2 separate regions of the Homo sapiens genome follow, and region 2 is linked to region 1. The links come from fine-mapping of genetic effects on gene expression. A gene starts in region 1. The other region holds a variant in brackets. All regions are shown on one strand. Distances are between the middles of the regions.

Region 1 (12,110 bases):
ACAGATGCAAAAAATAAAATATGTACTGTGCATAATAATCTTTATTTAAGACAATTACTAGACTTTAAAATGTGTTGAGATATGAAACTAACACAAACCATAATCTATTCATTCAACAAACATTTCTCAAAAGGAATCCTGGCTGAGGTTGAGCGAAGGAAGACTAAGAGGTCCAAGGAGTTGAACCCAGAGAGGTAGGTAAGAGCTGGATCAGGCAATGCTTTTGAGAGTTGGGATATTTTTTAAAGAGCAATCAATAGGAAGCCACCAGAAAGTTCTTTAAAAAGTAACAATGAAAGGATTTATGTTGGGCAAGTGGAGTGAATGTTCTAGGGATAATGGGTTGAAGCGGGCAGAGTAGAAGCAGTGAGAACAGGTAGAAGAAGGCCATGGCAGAGGTCCAACAAGAAATGACAGTAGTGGTGTGGATGAGGATGGTGACGATGGAAAGGAGAGACACAGCATGTTGTATGTATTCCACTCAGCTGGTTGGTGCTCACCTAACCTCTCCTCTGCCTGACCTGGGAACCCACCCCTGGGCTTGCTCTCTGCCCCCTTCTCAAGAGGGCAGTGAGGGTTGATTGGGCCCCTGCATTTAAGCGCCTTCTGGTTCCTCAGCGGCCCCAGCTCCCCGCAGCCCAGGCTGTTCAGCTTGGCTCCCAAGGAGGTCTTTTTCTCCAGTGAGTGGGTCTGAAGAATGACGGAGCCGCTCACTAATCTGATCCTGCTCCTGCTTACTGAGGAGGGGAATTGGCAGGGGGTTGCTCTGGTGTGCTTGTCCTGCTTGTGTTAACTGCAGGCCCCAACCTGGAGAAAAGCTAGAGGATTACTGCTCCTGGGGCTCCCTGCCCCCTCCCCATCCCAAAACAGCTGAAGGAAAGGCTTGAACTTTTCTCTTTCACAAGGAGACACAATTTTGTATTTGTGATAGGGAGAGAATATATTTTAAACCTGCCTTTTCTAGTGATAACAGGAATGCAATCCTATTAGAGAAAATTGGAAAGTATGAGAAGGATGACTAACCAGTATTCATAACACTACCCTGCATTTTTGCATGTTTCTCCAGTCGAATATACTTATTTTAAATAGTCAAGGTCATATACACTGAATATAGTTCTGTGTATCTTGCTGTTTATGCTTTGTGCTTTAAGCTTTTCCTTGTGTCATTAAAAATTTCTCTGTAAACGATTTTCATGTCTGCAAAGCAGACTTTTTAAAACATTTTACCTAACCTTTCTCCATTTGTTGGACATTTGGTCTGTTTGGAACTTTTTTGCATAAGAAGGGCTGTGATGAGTATCTTTGTTATAAATCTTTGGCTGCATTTTGGATGCGCTTCTTCAGCCCCAACCCTCACCCACTCCTAGATTTCTAGAAGGGGGATTAATGAAGGAAGTTGTATAGTCAGAAGATAGGAAAGCAAAACTCTACCTAGGGTAATTCCCACCAAAAAGTAGCTCTGCACCTATCATAGAAGCTAAAAAATGGACTAGCCATTTTCCCTCGGTAAGGACTTGATGCTTCCCACATCACATCATTCACGAAGAGGTGGCTAGTAGGAGTCTCTGTGTCAGGAATTGCCTTTCTCTAGAGGCCCCGCTGGATTATGGCTTTGAGGGGCAGCTGGGGCTGTGATTTCACTGGTTTATCTCTTGGTTTTGTGGCCGGCAGAGGAGAGAGTACCCTCCCAGGCCTGGGAGTGTGGTTCCACTGCGCCGCGGTAGAACCAGCTACGCAACCTTGAGCACCGTCATTTCCCCTTTTGGGGCCAGTTTCCTCCTATGTAAAACAAGGAAGAGGAGGGAGGAGGAATTGGAGTTTGACCAGATTTCATTATTGTTGCTGTTTAAGCAGCAGAACCCTTATTACAAATTAAACCTTATCAGAACCCCAATCTATAAAATGGATTAAGGTTCGGTTGCCCTGATAGACGTGAGTGGGGAGGAGTGGGGGAGGGGCCCCAGTTTGAAAACTCTGGCCTAGAAGATGAAAGTTTCATTCTAGTTCAGTTCCGTTCTCTTCCCTATTGCTGAAGGAAAGAAAAAAAAATCATTTTTCATCTGTATTTAAATCCTCCTAATGTGCTGATTGATGAAATCTTTTCCCTTAAGGGCAATTTGGAAATCAGACAAAGTGAAGCACAAAGCCATGGATGTTTAGAGAGAGAGTGAGCGGTATGTGAGACACACTGAAAGGGTGACCCTGGCACTTCTAAGAAGGCAGCAGCACAATGGACTCTTCGAAAGAAGCAGTGTCAGAGTTTATTCCCCTGTTGGCACCGCCTCCCACAGTGGGGGCGAATTGCTTGTTTTTACCCTCCCTTTCCTGGAGTCATTTCAGACCAAATTTGAGTCCACAATTGCTAGCAATTGGAAACCCAGAGTAACCTACGGACAGGTATTTTATTGAAGGCCAAACACGGTAAAAATATGGTGGGGGGATAGATGGGACAAAAGAGTTTCCTCTCGCCCCTGGGTTTTTGGAGCACCCGGGTTGAGGGGCCAGGGGAGATGAGGCTCACTGACCAGGCAGCTTGCAGGTTTGCTCCAATCACAGCAGCAAGGATTGAAGCACCAACCAGCCGGGAGGGGGGCGAGGTCTGTGGCCCTGGGATTGGGAGAAGGGGGAGTGGTACCAAGGCTAAGACTGAACCCGAACCCGAGCCTGGACGCGCGGCAGGACCAGGAGGAGGACTGGGTGGAGGGCAAAGCGTATGGGTCTGTAAATCAACGCCGGCCCCCTCCCACCCCATGCTGCACAGTGGGGGATGGAATGCGGGGGGTGAGGGTTGGCAGTGGAAATGTCTTAGGGGGCTGGTGCTGCCTTCCCAGGGAGACCCGACCTTTCTTGAAGAGGCGGAGTGGGTTTAGTCTCCAGGATCCGCAGTGATGTGTAAAAAGCGGGCACGACCCCCGAAGCCTCAGAAAGCCCCCTCCCCACCCCCCCACCAGGCCCTCCCCGGCCCGCAGGTGAATGACTGGCCCACACAAAGGAAGCCGGCTGGAAATGTGGAATTCGGACCAATTTACGGGAGACTCTGTCGCCTAGGGTCCCAGCGGACCTCAAGCAAAGAAACCTGTGGTCAGTAGTGGATGAGGATAAAAACAGTGCACCAGGCCAAGCTTATTGGAAAGGCTGAGTTTAGTTATTCTGGGATAGCGAGGTAACAGGATTAAAGGGATTAAGGAAATCACCTCAAACAGCTGAGGAGGGGGTAAAAAAACACTGGTTCTATTTGTTTTCTTCCTAGGCCCCAAACAGATACACTGGGGCCGTGTGGCTGGGCGCGAAACTAAAGGCCCTTCGGGGGGCACAGTGGAATGGCCAAGGGTCAGGGACTGGAGGAAAGTGGGGAGGGGGATGGAGTGGGGAGGGGGATGGAGTAGAAAGCGGGCTCGAGACTCTGGATGAAAAGGAGCCTTCTCTGGAAAACAAATAGGTGGACTGAGTTGACATGTTAAAAACAAAACGCCTGGGAGGAGTTTCGGAGATCTTTGAAAATCTAAGGAGTACTTTTTAATACCAAATCTTCCAGCGCTGAATGTTGACTCCGGCGGTTCAGCTACCAGGGTTGAAACGTATTTGTTTCCTGCTGGGGATCCCTGTAACCATTTATTTTTAATAGGATCATCGAGATTTCCGAAGGGTTTTCGTTTTGTAAATATTTCAGCTAGGCTCAAATGTCTTCCCGCCCCAGTGCACAAAGGTAAAAGTGCCCCGTTTTTGGTCGGTTTCAGCGGCCGCGCCTTTCCAGCCCCGCCTCGCGTGGCTGCGGCAGCAGACACTTTCAGCAGACGCTCACTGCGATCAACAAGTGCGCGGCCGCGGGCTCTGCGCATTAGCTACTACTGTGTGCCCGCTCTCGGGAGACGCTCCTGGAAGACTCGGAACTCTGTTCCGAGTTTCAGTTGAGAATATTGGAAGCTGGTGTATGGTGGATCACCAGTAGTTAAAAGGAAACCATTTCAGATTATGCTTGCCTCCCCCCAGGTCCCACCCCGCCCCTAGGATGGGATCTCAGTTGTAAAACCGAGTGTTGGTTCCTCCCCAACCTGCAAAAAAGTTTCAGGGCCGCAAAATTATCAGGACTCCATCATGTTGGTTATAAAATTTATTGATCTCATTTAGGAATTAAGAGTAAAAGCTTGAAAACCCTGAAACAAAGTAGCCCCTCCCCACTACCCAAACGAAATCTGAACACATTAGCGCGAAGAAATATCAAACAGATCACGGCAGAAATCACCAACTCAACATGATTGGACAGAAGCTGTCCCGCGGCCAGGGGCGGCGAGGCGGGAGACACACGCACACCTGGCTATAAATTAACATTGGCTTTAGCTGCCGCGCTGCTTGGAGCGGTCAGCGCCCCAAAAAACCACGAGGAAAACAGACGCGACACGACTGGGGGCGTAGGCGTTGCAGTTCTCCAGCTGGCCTCACCCGATACTATGTTTCTCCCATTCACTCCTTGGCTAACTGCAAACTAACAAGACAACATTTTCAAATGTAACAGAATAACCCTGGAACTCAGGAGGAGGAGTGGGGGCTGTTTTTTCTTTGCAAATAACACAGCGATTCCCAGCCTACAAAGGTGAAAGGAGCAGCGGCGTGGGGCAAGAGAGCTCTCTAGAAGTCCCATTTTCGCTGCTCCTGACTTATTTTTGCTTTTGTACAAAACCCGACAGCTACAGCAAAACTTTCAGCCCTCCCCATCATCGGTACAAGGCAACAGTCCCAGGCAAGCAAAGCTAAACAAGGCGTCCCAACTTGGGGGTGCGGGGCGGGAGTGGGGGTGGGGGTGGGGAACAAGGGTGGACGAGCGCAGGCCGGTGCTCAGATGTGGGTCAGCGGCACCGTTCCGTTGACTGCAGTCCCGGCGCCCTGGTAGTGCTGGTGCACGCCGTGCAGGCGACCGCCGGGCAGCGGAGAGGCGGCGTCGGCCGCGTCCCCGCCGGGTGGCAGGTACATGCTGATCATGTCGCGCAGGTCGCCGAGGCACGCGCGCTGAGAGTGCGATGCGATGGCGGGCGGCGGCGAGCTGGGCTCAGACTTCACTACCGAGCCCATGGGGCCCAGGCTCATGGCGGCTGCGGCCGCAGCTGCGGCCGCGGCGGTGGCGGGCTGCTGCCCGTAGGCGGCGGCCGCGGCTGCTGTGGCTGAGGGCGCCATGCCCCCGTAGCCCGAGGCGGCGGCGGCCGCGGCAGCGACGTTCATGTAGCTCTGAGCGCCGGGCGGCATCATTGGGCTGTACTGCAGGCCGGCCATGTCGTAGCGGTGCATCGGCGGCAGCGCGGGCGGCGGCGGCGGGCTGCTCATGCTCGGGGGCTGCGCGTAGCCCAGCTGCTCCTGCACCAGCGAGTACGCGCCGTTGGCCCAGCCGTTCACGTGCGTGTACGTGTCCAGGCGCTGGCCCACGCCCACCGGACTGCTGGCGGCAGCGGCTGCGGCCGCGGCAGCGGCGGCGGCGGCCGCGGCACCGGGAGGCAGGAGGCCGCTGGGCAGGGAGTACTTATCTTTCTTGAGCAGCGTCTTGGTCTTGCGGCGCGGTCGGTACTTGTAGTCCGGATACTCCTTCATGTGCACGGCGCGAAGTCGCTTGGCCTCGTCGATGAATGGTCGCTTCTCGGCGTCGGTCAGCAGTTTCCAGTCGGCGCCCAAGCGCTTGCTGATCTCAGAATTGTGCATCTTGGGGTTCTCCAGGGCCATTTTGCGCCGCTGCCCGCGGGACCATACCATGAAGGCGTTCATGGGCCGTTTCACACGGTCCTGGTCTGTACCCCCGCCACCTCCGCTCGCACCACCGCTGCTGCCGCCGCCCGAGTTCGCGCCGCCGGCTGCGTTCGCACTACTCTTGCCTGCGCCTCCCGGGGCTGCGGGGCCGCCGGTGCCCGCCGCTTGTGTGGGTGTCCCTACGGGGTTCTTGAGTTCAGTCTCCAGAAGGCTGTACATTGCCGGGGCGGGAAGAAGGTGCGCCAGCGTGGCGGGAGGAGAAGGCGCTCCCGGGGCTGGAGCGGCCACGGTGAAAAGGCCCTGGGACTCCGTCGGAGCGGAGCTTGGGGGCCTGTGGGCCAGCGAGTCCGGCGGGAAGGGTAGGCTTATCAAAATGCTCCGCGCCAAATCAGCAGGAACCCGCGGGCTTCTCGCACCTGATGAGTTCTCTCGAACAGGTCGCATTCACAGTCTGCCTGGGCTCTAGCTGGGCCCCTTATATACCTGCTCGGATTCCCCGGGGTTGGGGCTTGGTCCGCCCCTCGCAACCCGGAGGACCCGTGATTGACAGGTTCGCAGTGATGCGCCCTGGCCAATCATTACCGAGCCCCCGTTCGGCCTGGCTGGAAAAAAAAAAGTTCGGGGAGCCCTTTCGTTCACCCCACGCCCCTCTTTGGCCTAGTGACGTGGTAAGAGTTACTTAGGAGGCGGGAGTCCACGAGGCCCACTCAGAGGCCACCAATTAGGGTTTCAAAAAGTTTGAAAGAACGAAACCTGAGGAGGTGACGGGGGGAGGGGGGAGGGGGCACGCAAGCAGATTGGGGGGAGGGGGCAGAGGGGCGCCTTCGGAATTTAGAAAACAACTTTGCAACCCTGTCAAGGCAGACCGGCGCCCCATCCCCCGGCCAGCCCGCAAAGCTTCCCGTTGTCTGCACGGAGGTTTTCTGGCCGCTTCTGCTGCCAGCGCTAGGAACGCAGGGCACCACCAGCTACCCAGGCCGGCTTAGGGACTCCAGGCTCATTGGAAGTGCTCCTGGCTGCGTCTCCAAGAAGCTCTCCCTGGAATTGGCCGCTGGTTGTCCAGATCTTTCTCTAGGAGGGCCAGTGCGTCCAGGACGCAGCGTGGGTCAGGGGCCCGGGCATGGGAGACAGGCTTCAGGACTGCGGGGTGCATTCGGCTGTGAGGCTCTTGGGGGTTTGCAGGAGGGCGGGCAAGCAGTCAGTCGCCCGTCTCCTGAGCCTGTCGGAGGCGCTCGCACAAGGTGGTGTGGAAAGTATGTGTGGGACGTAGGGGGTGAACTGGCCTCCGCTCTCTCGATCCTGGCCCCCGCTTAGCGGCCCCTTTTTGTCTCTGCTCTGTGGCCATTTCGGTTTTTCCAGTCCGATGCCCCTGAGGGGGAGGGTCGGGCCCCTTGGAAAATCCGTTTTCATGGCAACACGGAGCCTCTCAGAGTGAAAGAAAAGTTTCTTGGAGGGGGGAACGTTGGCCGGAGCGGAGCCGAGGCCGTCCTCCGGGCGAACCGCCGGGCCCCCTCCACTGCCCCCGCACCTGCCGGGACCGCTGAGCGCTACTCTGGGCGCGCAGCCTCGCCGCCTCCCCCGGGAGCAGGCTCTGCTAACGGATTCCGTCCGTCTCTTTTATTGTTTTAGAGACTTCCTGAGATTCGGAGCGGGACATTCACTTGCTTGTTGGGTTATCTGCCAAAGACTAGCGGCGCGGGAACTCTGGCTGCGGGGAGAGGAAACCCCGATAATCGCCACTGCCAGCTGAAGCGAGTGGCACAGCGTTTGAAACTCTCGGAGCAGCCCGAGGTAGCGAGTGGGAATGAGAAGCCATCCCGGCAGATTTGGCAGAAACTAAAATAAGGTGTCCATACGGTGTGGGGTCTCGCCCCCCCATCATCCCTAGCCCCGTGGAAAGGTGGGGAACTAAACGGAAAGCATAATCTTAAGTGGGTGGGGGGCGCATGGGGGAATCCCAGGTTTCTAGCGTCTTAGCGTTAATGCAAGACCAGGCGATCCCGGGACTTCTGCATGCTGGGCTCTTCCCCCTTTCTCTCCACGAATTAAAAAGTACGCCTCTTCGGCTTGTTAGTGGGGTCAGGGGGGGAGTGGAGGCTCAGGGCAGGCCAGCCCCCTCTCGGCCAGGCGGACCTCTGGCAAAAGAATCCCGGCTCCCAGTCGGCATCATCTCTCGGAAGTTTGGGGTCTGGAAACTTGCCCCTTAAGTTTGTGTTCCACTTGATCTGAGTATTCTGCAGCCAAGGGCTGCAGTCAACTGGATGGGTATACGGATTTAGGGTTTTAAATGTAAGTAAACTCTCTGGAAGGCTTCTGTGTGTAGATACAGTGTGTGTGTGTGTGTGTGTGTGTGTGTGTGTGTGCGCGCGCGCGCGCGCGCGCGTAGCGAACGTGAGCTGATAAGTACGTCTCAGAAAACATAATGATTAGGCAATCCCTACCTGCACCTGTTTTCTTGGCGAAGTGGCCGACAAGGTCAAACTTTCTTAGGCAAATCCATCCTCTCCTACAGAAGCCAATGTGCAATATCTCTGCCCTCCTGCCGTCTTTCCCGCATGCCCTCTCTGGGCTTTTCTGGGCCCTGGAGGCTGTTGCTAAGTGAAGCGCGTTTTAGGAAACTACCCAACCGACGCGCGGCCTGGCGTCCAGTAGCTTCACAGATGTCAGGTTTCTTTCCAAGTTTTAGGACCCAAGTAAACGTTGCAGTGACAGCGCCTGGGCTGCATATTTCCCAAGGCAGGGGATACGGTGCTGGGCCGACACCCTCCCCGCAGCAGATTACCAGGGGAAACTAGTCACTGCTCCCAGCTGTCTGACATTTGATCACACTTAGCCCGAGGCTTAGGTGAGCTCATTTTTGCCCTACATCCTCCTGCCAGATTTACAGCAGTCTTTTGCCAGGACCAGGCACACTCTCCCAATTCTCCCGGCTTCTCGCTGAGGCCAGCTCCCTCTCGGGGGGTAGATACATAAAATCTCCGTATCTGGTGGTTCTGGGGTGATCTGCACATTCTCAAGTAAGAGCCACGCCAGATTTCCTTGGAAACTCTTGCCAGGACACTTTCTAAATACAAGCTATCATTTCAATAGACAAGCAAGGTTACCATTGCGGGCGTGGGGAGATGGGGGAAGGCTGGAAATAAATCAGTTCTTAGCCCACCTGCAGCGCAGGCTTAGCCACCAGCCCAGCGGCGCAACCTTCGCTAAGGGTCGGGAGAGGTGTCGCGACAGGTACCACAGCGCAGGAGGCCTCGGTTCCGGCTGGGGCTGCGGGAAGGCAGGGCAGCTGGCGGAGCCCCAACTCCAGTGTCTCCGACGCGCACCCTGCACCCAGCGAGGAAAGCAGAGGAACGCAGTGGGAACCAGGACCGATCCTTCAACCTCTTCAGGAGAAGAGAGCGCGCTCAGCAGCTCTCTCGCCCTCTCCAGCCTCCAAGTGCCCTTGGGCGGTTCACAGAGCTCCGGATCTGGCGCTGGGAACCCGACCAAGGCCTCCTCCCCATTCCCCCGCCCTTCCTAGAGAGCTCCCGCTCCCTCCGACTGGAGCCAGCCCTGGGGCTCCCAGAACCCAGGGCGCGACAATAGCGCCGTTTGTTGGCTTCGGTTGGAAACTTCACCCAGCGTAGCCTCTTGCCGCTTCGCCCTGCGGGGCTTGGAGGTCGCCCCAACCTTCGAAAGAGACCAAGCGGATTTGCGGCGGAGCAGATGTGATGCCTATCCTTAGAGGGCGGGTTATAGCAAAACTCCGGGACCAAGACTCTAGCGTGACTGGCCCAATGGGCTTTGGGTACATAGGGCACCCCTGCTCTGCCTTCTTCCTATTTCTAGGCTTGGCCGACATCAGGTGTCCCAAGTGCCTTATATCTGCAAAGAACACTCAGCAATTGTGCCTTAGAGCTACTGGTGGAAAGAGCAGGAAAGGAGCTGTCCCACGACTCGCGCGGAGGTATCTGCATTGATTCCTCTTCAGTAACTGCTCATAGGGGACCTTTTTCAAGGTCCCTGGCATGATTAGGACCCAACTTATTAGAAGAGGTGCCCTCAGCCGGGCGCGGTGGCTCAAGCCTGTAATACCAGCACTTTGGGAGGCCGAGGCGGGTGGATTACCTAAGGTCAGGAGCTCGAGACCAGACTGGCCTACATGGCGAAACCCCGTCTCTACTAAAAGTACAAAAATTAGCCTGGCTTGGTGGCGTGCGCCTGTAATCCCAGCTACTCAGGAGGCTGAGGCAGGAGAATCCCTTGAACCCGGGAGGCGGAGGTTGCAGTGAGCCGAGATTGCGCCACTGCACTCCAGCCAGGGCGACAAGAGCGAGAGACTCCGTCTCAAAAAAAAAAAAAAAAAAGAAAAGAAAAGAAGGAGAAGAAGAAGAAGGGTGTCCTCTGCGTGCTGGGTGGTTTGGGGCCGATGTGTGTCTGTGTCGCTTGGGGGACGGAGAGTCGGAGAGTGGGGTGGGGTGGGCGGTATTTGGGCTCGCCTGGGCCCGCTGAAGCCTGACAATAGGGTCAGCAAAGGTTGCCCTCCGGCTGTGGCCTAGCGTTCGCCTTTCAGGTTTCTCAAGTGTAGCCAAGCCCAGCTCGGGGTCTGGCTTTTAGGAAGTGAGAACAACTTATCCTGGGGACTCTCGGAGACGCCTTGATTTTCAACAGACAAACAAAACCAAAAACAAACCCGCAACAGTTTGCGTTTCTTAAAGCAGTCATTTCTATCTTTTCCCTTGAGAACACCCCTTGTCTGTTTACTCTGGCTTCTAGCCAAGATTGTGTATTTAGGCCGCTGATCGAGAGCCTTGATCAAAAAATCATAGGCTTAGGTCTATTGTAGAACCATCCCTTGTAAAAAAAAAAAAAAAAAAAGGTCAGAAAGGTCACCATCATTTCAACGGGGTGGTAGAGACAGCACCTTCCAGTTCCTGGAGCATTCAGTAGGAACCCCAGCCCCACTCCGCCAACGCGTAGCACCGTCTCCAGCGGAAGTACTCTTTCTTACAGGTCACAGAAGCAGCTGAAGACCCTAGGCTGGTGGGTGTAGATTGTAATAACTTAGTCGATGGTCTCTAAAGAAAGGTTGCTAGGAGCTGCGAGGTATGGGAAAACAAGGTCCTCGAGGTACCATAAAGTCTCCTGCGGGCTGTACAACTGTATTCTATCGTAGTTTGGTGTTGCTCTTTTTTGGGAGGGTGCGGGGGTACTTTTAAAAAAGTTTCCGCATTCAATTCACTTGGTTGGCTGAGCTGTACTTGGAAAATACACTGGGAGTCCCCTCGGCCCACACGTTGGCGCTCAGTTTCCTTCCACCCACAGAGTATTCAGGTGTTAATCACCAGCTCTCTTTTCCCTATGTGCGCAGCAACTCCAAGGAATTTGACAACCTTTGCCTTCTGCTTTTACTCGCTGACCTCACCACCCGAAAGTTGCCATTTTCCCGGAGGAAGGAAGGCTCTGCCCATGCACTGGGTCCCATTTCCAGCGGGCTTTGCTGAGCCATCGCTGTCAGCCTCTTTGCCTCTCACCCCCCTCCTACACCCGTCTTTGCCCATCCCCACAACTCTCCTCACGCGCTCAGCTCCGCAGACTGCCAAACCCCCACCCCTGCGGAGCAACTCGGGGAACTCGGCCCCCTACGTCCAGGCCTGCCCTCCCACTGGGCCTGTTGCCCTTTCCACTTCCTTTTGTGACTGCAGAGGCACAGCGCTCACCTGTACAGAGGCGAGGTGACCTGCAGGAAGCCGGGGCCAATAAAGTAATCTTAAAATCGTTATCAGTATGCAATGCTGTTTGAGTTTTTCCATGTCTCCACAATTCCATTCGGGTCCACCAGGCAAGGCAGCGCTTCTCGGGAAAGGGTGCCTGGAAAATCAGTGGACCTCCAGGCACTTCCAGCGTGACCAAGCAAAGCTATCGCCCCAACCACAGGGGGCGCAGGATGGCAGGGGGTTGGGTAGAGCATCCTGGAGAAAATTTTAAATTCGAAGGCAGCACTCAGCGGTTCCTTTTCCACTCTTTTATTTATTTCTTTGTTTTTCTTTTTATTTATCATTTTCTTTTAAGAGAGTGGAAAGCCGTGGAATTTGGTGCGCAGAATTTCTATGTTCTCTTTTCATCTCTTCAACGCCCTCATTTTTTTTTTTTTTTTTTCATTTCACTAACCTTTGTCATCCACCTGCTATGTGCTGAGTTGTGCACCAAGTACGGGACGGAGACCCTGCACTTTCCCATTCCGTATCAGATAGTGGCAATGGCTTGGGAAAGTCTCAAGAGGACTCCGGATTCGGAGAGAAAGAAATTTTCGCCTGATGCTACCCCATCCCCCTAGTTGATCTACGGAGAAATCGGGCCTCGCGAGAAGCGCAACATCTTGGACAAGGACCTGGCGTGAG
Region 2 (12,110 bases), 72 kb before region 1:
TGCAGGAATATAGTTGAAGAAGGCAAAGAGTTTTGCCAAGCAGATTCAATGAATGAGAGGACATGAAAGTTGAAGTTTTCAGTAAGAGGGTGGTCAAAGGTTAAAATACTAAGGGAGAAAAGATAGGACAGACAGTAAGTAATTGGAGAAGCAAAAGGGACTGATGGTTTTAATGAAGCTAAAAACTGCTGACAATAATGGAATGAGAGAATTGGAAGGAAAATCATGTTCAGAGAATAGTTTGTGGAGTTCAGAATTCACGAGATAGAGTAATTCTCCAAGATGATAAGATTCAGGTTGTGGCCATGAGTGCATAGCTCAGGTGGAGGGGAGGAAAGGCCACTGTAGATGAAGTCAGAAGAATGAGAAGCCGAGGTACTGGGTGGATTGTCACCATGGGCATTGAAGTCCCCTATCATAAGGGCAAAGTGTGAGGTGGAGAGGAAGCCATAGAGTCAGGGATCACAGTCTCCAATGAATCTTGGGAAGTGAGCAAGAGATTGATTGATGAGAGTGGCAGGGTAGAGACATGTTTTGGAAACAGCAATTAACAGTTAAAAAAAATTTCTCCCTCTAGGCCCTCTGCTAAAAAGGCTGGGAAAGTAATCCCATTGGAGAGGCCTCAGAGGAAGCAGCATCCTCAGAGCTTTCATTGTGAGTCCCCAGGCCTATAAAGCAAAATCCCAACCACATTTAGCATGAACCAACCACATTGCCTTTTACAATCTGGTCCTAAACCCACTTTTTCAGGCCACTTCTTCCACCCACACCATGGATACCTCAGGACATGTTTTAACTGACAAAATTAGAATTTAACATTTAAGTTAGAATTTAACATTTAAATAGTATCTAATCCAACTCTTTTGAGATAGGAGGGTTTTTTGGTTTGGTTTTTTGGTTTTTAACTGCTGCATGTCTATGTGGGATGATACTTAAGTGAATTTAACAATATTCAATGGGATATTATTGTTTTTGAAAGGTGATAACAAAAGCAAATACCTCTGTATTTAAAAATATAACCCTTAAGGTAACTCAAAAGTTGGACATGCTTACAAATGAGCCCTTCTCACCGCCCCTGAATCCCTGTTGAAGCTGCAATTACTTGGCTTCAATGTATCAGTCAATCAATCATAAGCAATAACTGAGCATCTATTAAAAGCAAAGAATTGTGTTTAGGTGCTGTGGGAGTTACAGAAACATAGTAAGATACAACCCATGCTTTCATAGAGCATTCAGTGTCCTTGGAAAGAGAAGATAAACATTTGAAACAACTCATAGGACAAAATGTAATTCAGTGTCAAGGCTTGAGCTGCAGGAATTAAGAGGAAAGAAAAATCATTTGATTAGGGCATTCAAGAAAAGCTTCAAGGATAAGGCAGAACTTGACATAAGCCTATAGATTCTATACTACATATAATAATAATAATAATAATAATAATATAATAATCACCACAACAATAGTAGTAACAATAGCTATCTCTTATTGAGTGTTTTTAATATTCCAGGTACTATGCTGAGTAATCATTTAAATTCCTTTTTCTCAAGCATTTCTCACAATGCTCTAAGGTGGCTACTACTCTTATCTCCATATTAGAGCTGAGGAACCTGAAGATCAAGGAGTTTTAGTGACATGCTCAAGGTAACAAAACTAGTAAGTGGTGTACCCAGGCCTTTGTTGGGCCCTGGAACCTGTGCTTCTCACACTGCACAGTGTCCTGCTTTTCGAGAGCTTCCCAGTCATACCTGATTAAGCAACTGAGAGAAAGAACAACAATAATAGTCATCATTTATTGAATGCCTAGATTATCTCTAATCCTCCATTAAGGTAGGTATATTAGTTTGCTAGGGCTGCCACAAGAAAGTATCACAAACTAGATGACTTAAACAACATGAATGAATCGTCTCAACTCACAAAATGGGAGAAAATATTTGCAAACTATACCACTGACAAGGAATTAATAACCAGGATATATAAAGAGCTCAAACAACTCAATAGGAAAAAAATCCAATAATCTGATTTTAAAATGGGCAAAAGCTCTCAATAGACATTTTTTGAAAGAAGACATGTAAATGGTAAACAGACATATGAAAAAGTGTTCAACATCACTGATCATTAGGGAAATGCAAATCAAAACTACAATGACATATCTTCTCACCCCGGTTAAAATAGCTTACATCCAAAAGATAGGCCATAACAAATGTTGGAGAGGATGTGGAGAAATGGGAACCCTTGTACACTGTTGGTGGGAATGTAAATTAGTACAGCCACTATGGAGAACAGTATGGAGGTTCCTGAAAAAAACTAAAAATAGAGCTACCATACCATCCAGCAATCCCAGTGCTGAGTGTATACTCAAAAGGAAGGAAATCAGTATACTGAAGACGTAATTACACTCCCATGTTTATTGCAGCACTATTCACAATGGGTAAGATATGGAAGCGACCTAAGTGTCCATCAACAGATGAATGGATAAAGAAAATGTGATACATAAACACAATGGAGTACTATTCAGCTTTATGAAATCCTGTCACTTGCAACAACGTGGATGGAACAGGAGATCACTATGTTAAGTGAAATCAGCCAGACATATTAAGACAGATATCTCATGTTCTTACTTATTTGTGGGATCTAAAAATCAAAACACTTGAGCCCGTGGAGATAGACAGTAGAAGGATGTTTACCAGGGGCTGGGGAGGGTAATGGGGAGTAGAGATGAAGTGGGAATGGTTAATGGGTACCAGAATATAGTTAGGTAGAATGAATAACTAGTATTTGATAGTGTAACAGGGTGATGACAGTCAACAATGTTTTATTGTAAATTTTTAAATAACTACAAGGGTATAATTGAAATGTTTGAAACATAAAGAAATGATAAATTCTTGAGATAGGTAATGCATACCCCATTTACCCTGATACAATTATTGTACATTGCATGCTTGTATCAAAATGTCTCATGTACCCCATAAATATATACATCTACTATGTACCCATAAAATTGAAAATTAAAACATTTTTTAAAACTATAAAAGAAATTTATTATGTCACGGTTCTGGTGGCTAGAAGTGCAAGATCAAGGTGTTGGCAAGATTGATTCCTACAGAGGGCTATGAGGGAGACTCTGTTCCACTTTTCTCTTCTAGCTTCTTGTGGTTTGCTGCAATCTTTATCATTCCTGGCTTATAGATGCATCACACTCATCTCTATCTTCGTCTCCAAATGGTGTGCTCTGTGTGTGTATGTCTGTCCTTCAATTTTCCCTTTTCATAAGGACACCAGTTGTATTAATCAGAGTTCTACAGAGAAACAGAACCAATATGACATATATAGATGTGTAGATATTTGAGAGAAGATTTATTAGGGAAATTGGCTCATGTGATTATGGAGGCTGAGAAGCCCCATGATATGCCATCTGTAAGCTGAAGAACCATGAAAGCTGGTAGCTTGGCTCAGTCCAATTCTAAAGGCTGACAACCTGAGGGGTGGCTGGTGCAAGTCCTGGAGTCTGAAGCCCAGAGAACCTCGAGTTCTGATGTCCAAAGGAAGGAGAAAATGGGTGTCCCAACTCCAGAAGAAAGAGAGATCACATTTTCCTTTCTTCTACCTTTTGTTCTATCCAGACCCTTAGCTGGTTAGATGGTGCCTGCCCACATTTGGCGAGGCCAGACCTTCCTTAATCAGTCCACTGATTCAAATACTAACCTGTTTTTGAAACACTGTCACAAACATGAATGAAAAAACACATACTCAGGAATAATGCTTTACCAGCTATCTGTGTATCCTTTAATCCAATCAAGTTGACGCCCAAAACTAATCATCACACCAGTCATATTAGATGAAGGTCCACTCTAACGACTTTATTTTAACTTGATCATTTACAAAGATCCTATTTCCAAATCACATCACATTCACAGGTACTGGGGGTTAAGACCTCAACAGAAAATTTGGGGAAATAAAATTTAACCCATAATAGTAGGCATCATTATCCTCATTTTACAGATGCCAAAAAGTTAAATAACTTGTCTAAGCTCATACAGCTCCTATTGCTAGAGCTAGGGATTCAGAACTGAGTCATACTAGCTCCAAAATGTTTGTCCTCTGCCTCCCCCTGACATAAAACTGATCAGGTAGCTTTTTTGCTTAAAATCTTTCCCCTCCAATGCCAAGCCTGACTTCTAAGTAGCCCCAGGCACGGGTTCTGGGCTTGGCTTGCATGCTCTATTCTGCAAAACCCATTCCTACCCAGCTTGTGGTAATAGCTGGGCTTCTGCTCCCTTCCAAGAGCACTTCCATCTCTACATTAGACCCAAGTTTAGTAATAATGTCAGTCAGTGTACTTTCACAGACACTGCCTTATTTAATTCCTAACCTTGTGAGATGATTTTGAAGTGTCTACATTTGCCAGATTAGGAAACTGAGACTCAAAATTACTAAATAACTTGCCCAATTTTACAGAGGTCTTAAATGGCATTGCTGTGATTTGAACTCAAGCCTGTCATGCTCTAAGCAAAGTCAATGCTCCCTCTACCACACCACCCTGGACTCTGGAGTCCGCACCAAACTGGGCTAGTGCTCCTGGCATTTGAGGCCTGGGGAGAGGTTCCCTAGGACTTGACATTAAGCTCTAGCCCAGAGCCTGGGGCCCTGCTGCCTGCTGTCAGCCTACCCTGATGTCCATGCTCTGCCCATTGGAGTGCCCATCTAGAGTTGAACATGTTCCCTTTGCCCTTACTCTCCCAGAGAACAGTAGTAGTTCCATACCACAGTCCCTCCCAGGCAATTTCATTCCATTGCTATGAACTGGTTCCTGCTGGCTGTATCCCAGCATATAACACAGCTGAGCGAATGCCTAGTCTATGACCCTGTTGAGTGAATGGAGCTGTTGCTGCTACCCTCGCTGTTACCCCTGGGCACCTCTGCCCAGGCAGGAAGCACAGGAAGCTGCGGCAGTGTCAGTCTCAGCATGCTGCCTGAAAAGACGCCCTCTCTCTTGCCCTCCCCTCACCGCCCCAGAACTGAGTGCCAGATCCAAGCCAATGGGGTATTTTCTGGGATAGCATTCTAAAACAAGTACAGTATCAGCAGAGCATTCTAAAACAACTACAGTATCAGCAGGAAGGAGACAAGTTTAGGGAACTAGGGTAGGTGGAGGATGAGCCCCCAGAGTTCCTGGGCACTAGGCATCAAATAGGAGACAGGAGAAAAGAGAGATAAAGTGAGGAGAGCAACATAAAACCAGAAGAGATGAAGGAAGGTGGAGAAAGGGCTTGAAAGTTCTGCTTGAAGTCTGACTCCCAGTAACTCTGAGTTCTTTAAGGGTTTTCATGTGATCTCACTAAATGGTGTGGATCTACCAGAGCAACAGGACCACCTGGTTCCCCAGAACTTCCCAAGGCTCCAAGCATGTTCCTCACTGCCATATGGGCTGTGGCCTCCCCAAGCATGTTCTTCTCTAGGCGCCGCCTCCAGATAACAGTTTCTAACATCTGGCCTCAGTGTGAGATACCAAGGCCCTTTCACAACAGGCACATAATTTTTTCTGTAAAGACATCATGGGTCTAAAGAACTTGGGATACTTGGATCTACCACTGGACATTCCCCTGGCATGGATTCTGGCAGGAAAGACTCAGGCTGG[G/A]CGATAGTCCAGGGCAGACAGTGCTGGCTGGAGTCCCAGTTCCCTGACCTGGCCCACTGCCCTCTTTGGCTATCAGACAACGTTCACAGAGTCTGCAGACATCTGTGTGCCCATAGGAACAGCTAGGGAGCTGCAGGATCTGGAGACACAAGAGGTTCCCCTTTGTCTCCTTCTGTCCTCACTAATGGCCCTTCCCAGCACAGCAGCTGGGTGTTTGGGAAGGGAGTTGGGGGAGGGATTGGCCTCTGACCAGAGGAATACAAGGCTGCCCTTAAAGAGGTGGCCCAGCTGTTGTGAGTGAACACACAGGTGCACATTGGTGGCTTTGACCCTCACGCACACTCTGGTCCCTGGCCAAGGTAAGGGCTGTAAAATGTAGCCAGGCCAGGGTAGCCCTACCCACATTTTTGGAGGACATGCCAATTTGGCTCCCAACCCTGTGTCACTGCTAGGATGTGATCCCCAGAAGGCACAGTAATTCCCACCACATCCACTGAACTCTTGGCATTATCCAGTGAAGCTTACACATGGTATCCATCTGTCGGCATTGTCACATAACATGCCCATCCACATGGGCAGTTCTCCTTCAGTGTCTTTGGACTTCTCCATGATACTCATTTCATTTGATTACCACTTCCCTTGGGCAGCTCAGTCAGTCACACCACCCCACCCCTCATTCTCCCGACTCTTCTTTCCATTGTCTGCACCCCACTCTATCACCGTGTTTCCCAGTACACACACACAAACACACACACACACTCATAATTTGCTACAAGGCCAGTATAAGTGGATTATTTTGTGCCATACATTCTAGGGGCTATTTCTGTTTTTCAATGCCCCATGATTGAGCATGGGCATGTCCCGGTAGTTCTGTGCCTCCCCGCTCCAAGTTTTGTGGCAGATTAAGAATGAGATATCCACCCCTTTCCAACCAGTCATGGATTCAGCCCCACAGTAAAGGAAACAACCTTCAGAGGTGACCCGGTGTGGATGGCAGGGCATCTTGGTTTGGTATTGACAGAGGAGGAAACTGACCTAAGAGAGGGGTTAAGTGACTTTCTCACACAATTAGTGAAAGAAGCAGAGATTGAGCCCTGATCTGATGCTTTTTTCCCCTCTACTTTTAAACCACATTATTTCTCCAGAGACAAAGCCAACAAAAGTGTGATCCAAACACCAGTGCCAGTCTGAGAACTGTTCGTTAGTGGTCCATGACGAAATAAGGAGCTTGCGCCAGAATGTAAATCAATTCACTACTTGCTTCATCAACAATCTTGCTGTGAAAATAAAATGTCAGCTGAACTAAACAGCATGCTTAGTGATTGCTGATTTACATTGGCACAAACTCTCTAGCTCAATGCCGTCCCTGTGTCCAGCAGCCCTGGTGCTGATGACTGTCCAACATGAGGTGGGATCTACTGCAGAACTGTGCCTCACCTTTTGTGTAAGAGGAATGGGTTGTGATAGAGGCTGGAGTCACGGGTCACATGGTTATGTTTAATCACAGCCCCTCAGGACTGAAAATAGCTCTGCACAGCCAAAACTAGTTCCTGGCTGCCCGAACCCAACCCTATAGATAGGGGCTACTCAAAGACCCAGACTGCAAGCGGTTTGTTGCCTTTGTGCATGAAAGTTTCGGTGCCTATCATGTGGCTGTTCCAGTCGTGGGTCTGTTGACCCTCAAGTCCGTTTCTAGCTTTTTGCCTGCTCTGCTTTGTATGGTAGGGGGTCTAACCCCTTCAGGCTCTTTCCCAGGCTGACTTCCCGCTGGGTCTAGCCAATAGGAGGCACTCACTGGAGGAAGAAGGGGGAAAAGAAAAAAGAAGCCAGATAATTTCTTTCCCCTGCTTCTCTGTGTCCCAGAGTGACCAACTTGTCCCAGTTTGTCCAGGACTCTTCTGGTTTCAGCACTGAGAGGCCAATGTCCCAGGAAGCCGTGAAAGTATCTCTGCTTCAAGCAGTTTCTCCTTCAAGGCTGAATCTCTTCTGTGGCTCCAGCCCCTGCTGGTGGCCCCTCCTTCTCTGTCCCAGAGATTGCCACTGTGATTCTAGCTTTCACTGGGTGATCCCAGCCCCTGGCTCTGTACCACTGTCCCCTCCCTTTGTCCCTCCAGCCTATGGGTGTTAGCAGCTTCCTGCTACTACTAATGTCCAGGTTGCCTCTTCAATCCGTTTTGGTTTCTTAGGTCTTCCCTGAACTGTGTCACCAATTTCAGGCATTAAATTCTCACTGTTGTTTACACTTGAAGTGGTTTCTGTTTTACTGCTTAGATTCTGACAATAATACTTACTTTATAGTGTTATCATGAGGATTAAATTAGTTAAATAAACCACTTACAGCATTGCTTGGAACATGGTAATTGCTTGTTAAATGTGAACTGCTGTTATTATTAGTGTAGTGCGAAATAACATTTATCACACGCTTGCCACGTGCCAGGCTAATCACTTTACACCCATGATCGTATTTAAGCCTTACAACCCTTCTACCTGGATGAACGTTGTTCTTGAGCTAATTGTTTAGGCAACCTGTTTGCATTTCACACCCAGAAATTCCCAGGCTCTTCTGAACCACTCCCCTTAGTGAATTCAACCATGTTTCTTATTTACTGAGCATTCTCTCAGGCTTTCAGGACACAAATAGGAATGAAATGGTAACAGGCGATACAGTCTAGTGGGAGAGACTGGTATGTCAGCCAGTTGATTCATCCAAGCAGAGGGCAGTGAAACCCAGAGATAGCAGCAGTGTGGCAAAGTAAGGAAGAGCCTGAGCTCTGGGGTTGGGCTGCCTGGGTTTTGACCTAGGCTCTGCATCTACAAATTAATACATCTACATCCACCTATCATAAGGTAGGGAAGTCATTTTTAAACTCTATGTGCCTCAGTCTCCTCACTTGGCAAAAGTACTCTTTTTATCATACCTGTCCCAAAGGGGTTATTTTAAGGATCAATGAGTTAATATTTGTCAAGTGTTTAGAATATGCACTAAATGCAATGTCTTTCTTAAGTGAAAATAAAATTAATAAGCTGAACCAATTTTAGGGGAACCCAGAGGATGGTGTCACTTGATTCTGCCTACAAGCATTCAGGAAGGCTTCACAAAGGAGGTGACATTGGAGTGGGATCTTAAAGAAGCAGTGGAAGTTTTCCAGATAAAGAAGAAAGCATCTCAAATCATCGGAAAGGCATGTGCAAAAAAGGCACAGAGTCATGAAAAAGGCTGGTATGACTGGGGAGTAATGAGAAATGAGTAGCTGGAATTTGGTGGCAGGATATGAGGCTCAACATTTAGTTTTGGATATGTTGGACAAGATCTTGAGTGTCATGCTAAGGAATTCAGATTTAATTCAGAGGAAAGGAAGGGAGAGCCAACAAAGGACTTTAAGTTTGAGAGAGTAAAATAATCAGCTTTGTTTTGTGGGCATTTCATTCTCATGACAGTGTAAATTTAAAGCTGAAAAACCTGCTCAGGTGTAATAAAAAATATAGTAAAATCAAGTAACCCCAATTGGAACAACCTAAATGTCTATCAACAATAGGATGGATACATTGTGTGTTATATTTGCACAGTGGAACACTATGCAACAGCACTGATAATGAATTACTGCTACGTGCAAAGGACATGGATGAATCTCTCAAGCCTAGTATTGAGCAAAAAAAAAAAAAACAAAAACAAACAACCCCCCCACACACACACACAGACACACAAAAGGGTGCATCCTGTATTATTCCATTTATATAAAGTTCAAAAATAGACAACACTAATCTATGCCATTAGAAGTCAATGGTTATCTCTGAGTGAGGAATAGTGATAGAAAGGGGACCCAAGTAGGGTTTCTGGGCTGCTAGTAATGTTCTCTGTCTTGAATTTGCCCTGGGTGCTGGTTTCATAGGTGTGCTCACTTTATGATCAAATTCAAGACACAGAACACTTGCACTTTAAACCAAAAACAACATGCTTTTTAGTGACATATAGTGTACATATGCAGACAAATCACTTACTGTTTCAAAGTACAAGTGGAGAATATTCAACCCTGCAGAGATCCAACCGACCTTTGACCACAGTGGGATATGAGGATCCATGAACACAGATGTCTATTACAAAGCAGCTGCCCCAAAAGAGAGAGTTTTTCTTTTAGGTATTTCCAGGTGACCCCAATATTATGCTTCTAGATGAACTCAGCTACAATTGGTTGGTCTGCATCATCACCTGTGTTTCTGAAGTTCAAATTTCAAGGACTTTAAACATTGCCTCTAAGGAGAGACAAAGGGGACCAGGATTTGGGAAGGAAGTCAAGGGAAACTCTAGTCTTATCTATAATGGTTTAAGTCCTTACAAGGAGAAGTGTGTTTTAGTCAGGTGTTTATTGTATAGTTAACACTAAACCTGAAAAAAACCTATAGCTCTACCTAGTCATTACATGATAATGAAAAGTAGCAGATATTACTTAATCAGGATTGAAAATTACTGGACCTGGCTTATCATTATGTTAAATTAATGGCTTGCCTGTATATGTTCTTTTTTGATTGACCTTCATGTGAGAAAGGTTGATGGTGTTGGGGACAATTTGCAGATGAGAAAACTGAAGATCTGAGACATTATGTGCGTGGCTCCTGGGCAACCATTTATTAATAGTAGAAAACCACTATCATCACCCTAGTCCAAGCCACCATTATCTCATGCTTGGACAACTACATAGTTTACTAGTTGTTTCCCTAGATTTACTATGTTTCCTAATATGTTTTCTACACTGAAGCTAGAGTGATGTTTTAAGAATGCCATGTTACCCTTTGACTTTTTAATTTTTTATTCTTTTGTAGAGACAGAGTCTTGCTATCTTGTCCAGGCTGCTCTTAAACTCCTGGCCTCAAATGATCCTCCCACCTTGGCCTGCCAAAGCACTGGGATTACAGGCACCTTTTATTTACTAAACTCTTCAATGGCTTCCTAGTGATCTTAGGGTAAGGACTCAAAACATCAGCAGGACTTTGTAGGCCCATGATGGGTAGGCCCCACATGTGTATCTCTCCAGCCCCATCTCATACCATGTTCCTCCTTGTTCTTTATGCTCCAGCCACATTGAATTTTCAGTCCCAGAAACTTGCTATACCCCTTCCAACCACAGGGTCTTGGCATGTGCTGCTCCCTTTGATGTGGATGTTCTAAAATTTATTAGTTTGGCATCAGTCATTTTCCGTTCCTCCAACAAACACCTGTTAACAGGTGGACCTACCTAAGTTAGGAGCCCAATTCTCCTTGTTTCCCTTTGTGTTACTGCAGTTTGAAGCTATTTTAGTCTTTTCAAGGAAAAAATGATCCCAAAGGGACTTAAAATAACAAAGCAAGTGATTGTCAATTATGTTACTTTGAAAGGCAAATTTTGGAAAACAAAAAGCCACCCTTTGAAGAACTGTAAACATTAAAACACAATTAATAACAATAGAAGGCAATATCATCTAATGGTTTAGAAAACAGGCACTGGGGCCAGTGCAGTGGCTCACGCCTGTAATCCCAGCACTCTGGGAGGCCGAGGCAGGCAGATCACGGGGTCAAGAGATCGAGACCATCCTGGCCAACATGGTGAAACCCCGTCTCTACTAAAAATATAAAAATTAGCTGGGTGTGGTGACGCGCGCCTGTAGTCCCAGCTACTCGGGAGGCTGAGGCAGGAGAATCGCTTGAATTCGGGAGGCGGAGGTTGCAGTGAGCAGAGATCGTGCAATTGCACTCCAGCCTGGGTGACAGGGTGAGACTCCGTCAAAAAAAAAAAAGAACACACATTGGCTTCAGACAAGCCTTGGCTCTGTGAAATCCTCTCTGACTGTGTGACCTTGGGCAAGTTACTTCAGCTTGCTGAGTTTCCACCACTGTAAAATGGAGACAATACCAGAACTCACCCAAGAGGATGGTTTTGAGGATCCAATGACAGGATATATTTGATCACTTAGCTAAGTGCCTGGCACACTATAAATCTTCAACAAAGTGAGGCTACTCTAATAATTATTATATGAGAACACCTAAAAGTTTCTTCCACTCAGGCTATGAAGGCAACTGATAAAAGCAGGACAGAAAATGACATGTTCAGGAATAGCAAAAAATAAAAACAAAAACAAAAAAACTTCTTATAAAGGGCCAAAAGATGTCAGTTAACGAGCCAGGCACTGTGGCTCACACCTGTAAATACCAACATTTTGCGATGCTGAGGTGAGATCACTTGAGCCCAGGAGTTCAAAACCAAACTGGGCAACATAGTGAGACGTCGTCTCTACAAAAATTTAAAAATTAGCTGGATGTAGTGGTGCACCCCTGATCCCAGCTACTCGGAAGGCTGGGGTGGGAGGATTGCTTGGGCCCAGGAGGTCGAGGCTGCAGTGAGCCGTGATCGCCCCACTGCACTCCAGCCTGGGTGACAGAGAAAGACCCGTTCTATTTATATAAAAGAAAAAAAGAAAGGACGTCAACGGATTTCACTATTTAAA

Alleles and levels. Alleles are on the strand shown, and positions count from the first base shown. SD is a standard deviation of normalised expression in the study named.
As copies of G replace A in region 2, the expression in tibial nerve of the gene that starts at base 6,183 in region 1 goes down (small effect, 0.36 SD a copy in GTEx).

What was found.
Region 2: its variant is fine-mapped to the expression of SOX3 in tibial nerve (GTEx, PIP above 0.99).

What each region holds. Positions count from the first base shown.
Region 1 is chrX:140,498,887-140,510,996 of GRCh38, forward strand. SOX3 (SRY-box transcription factor 3) reads right to left here and starts at 6,183. Exons shown (of 1, transcript NM_005634.3): 1 at 4,099-6,183. The coding sequence starts at 6,174. The coding sequence ends at 4,834. RefSeq lists promoters at 5,916-6,624, 6,135-6,421.
Region 2 is chrX:140,426,874-140,438,983 of GRCh38, forward strand. No RefSeq gene overlaps it. Among named protein-coding and RNA genes, the nearest start is that of SOX3, 72 kb to the right of the region's middle. RefSeq lists an enhancer at 10,635-11,209. The variant G/A (reference allele first, on the strand shown) is at 5,634.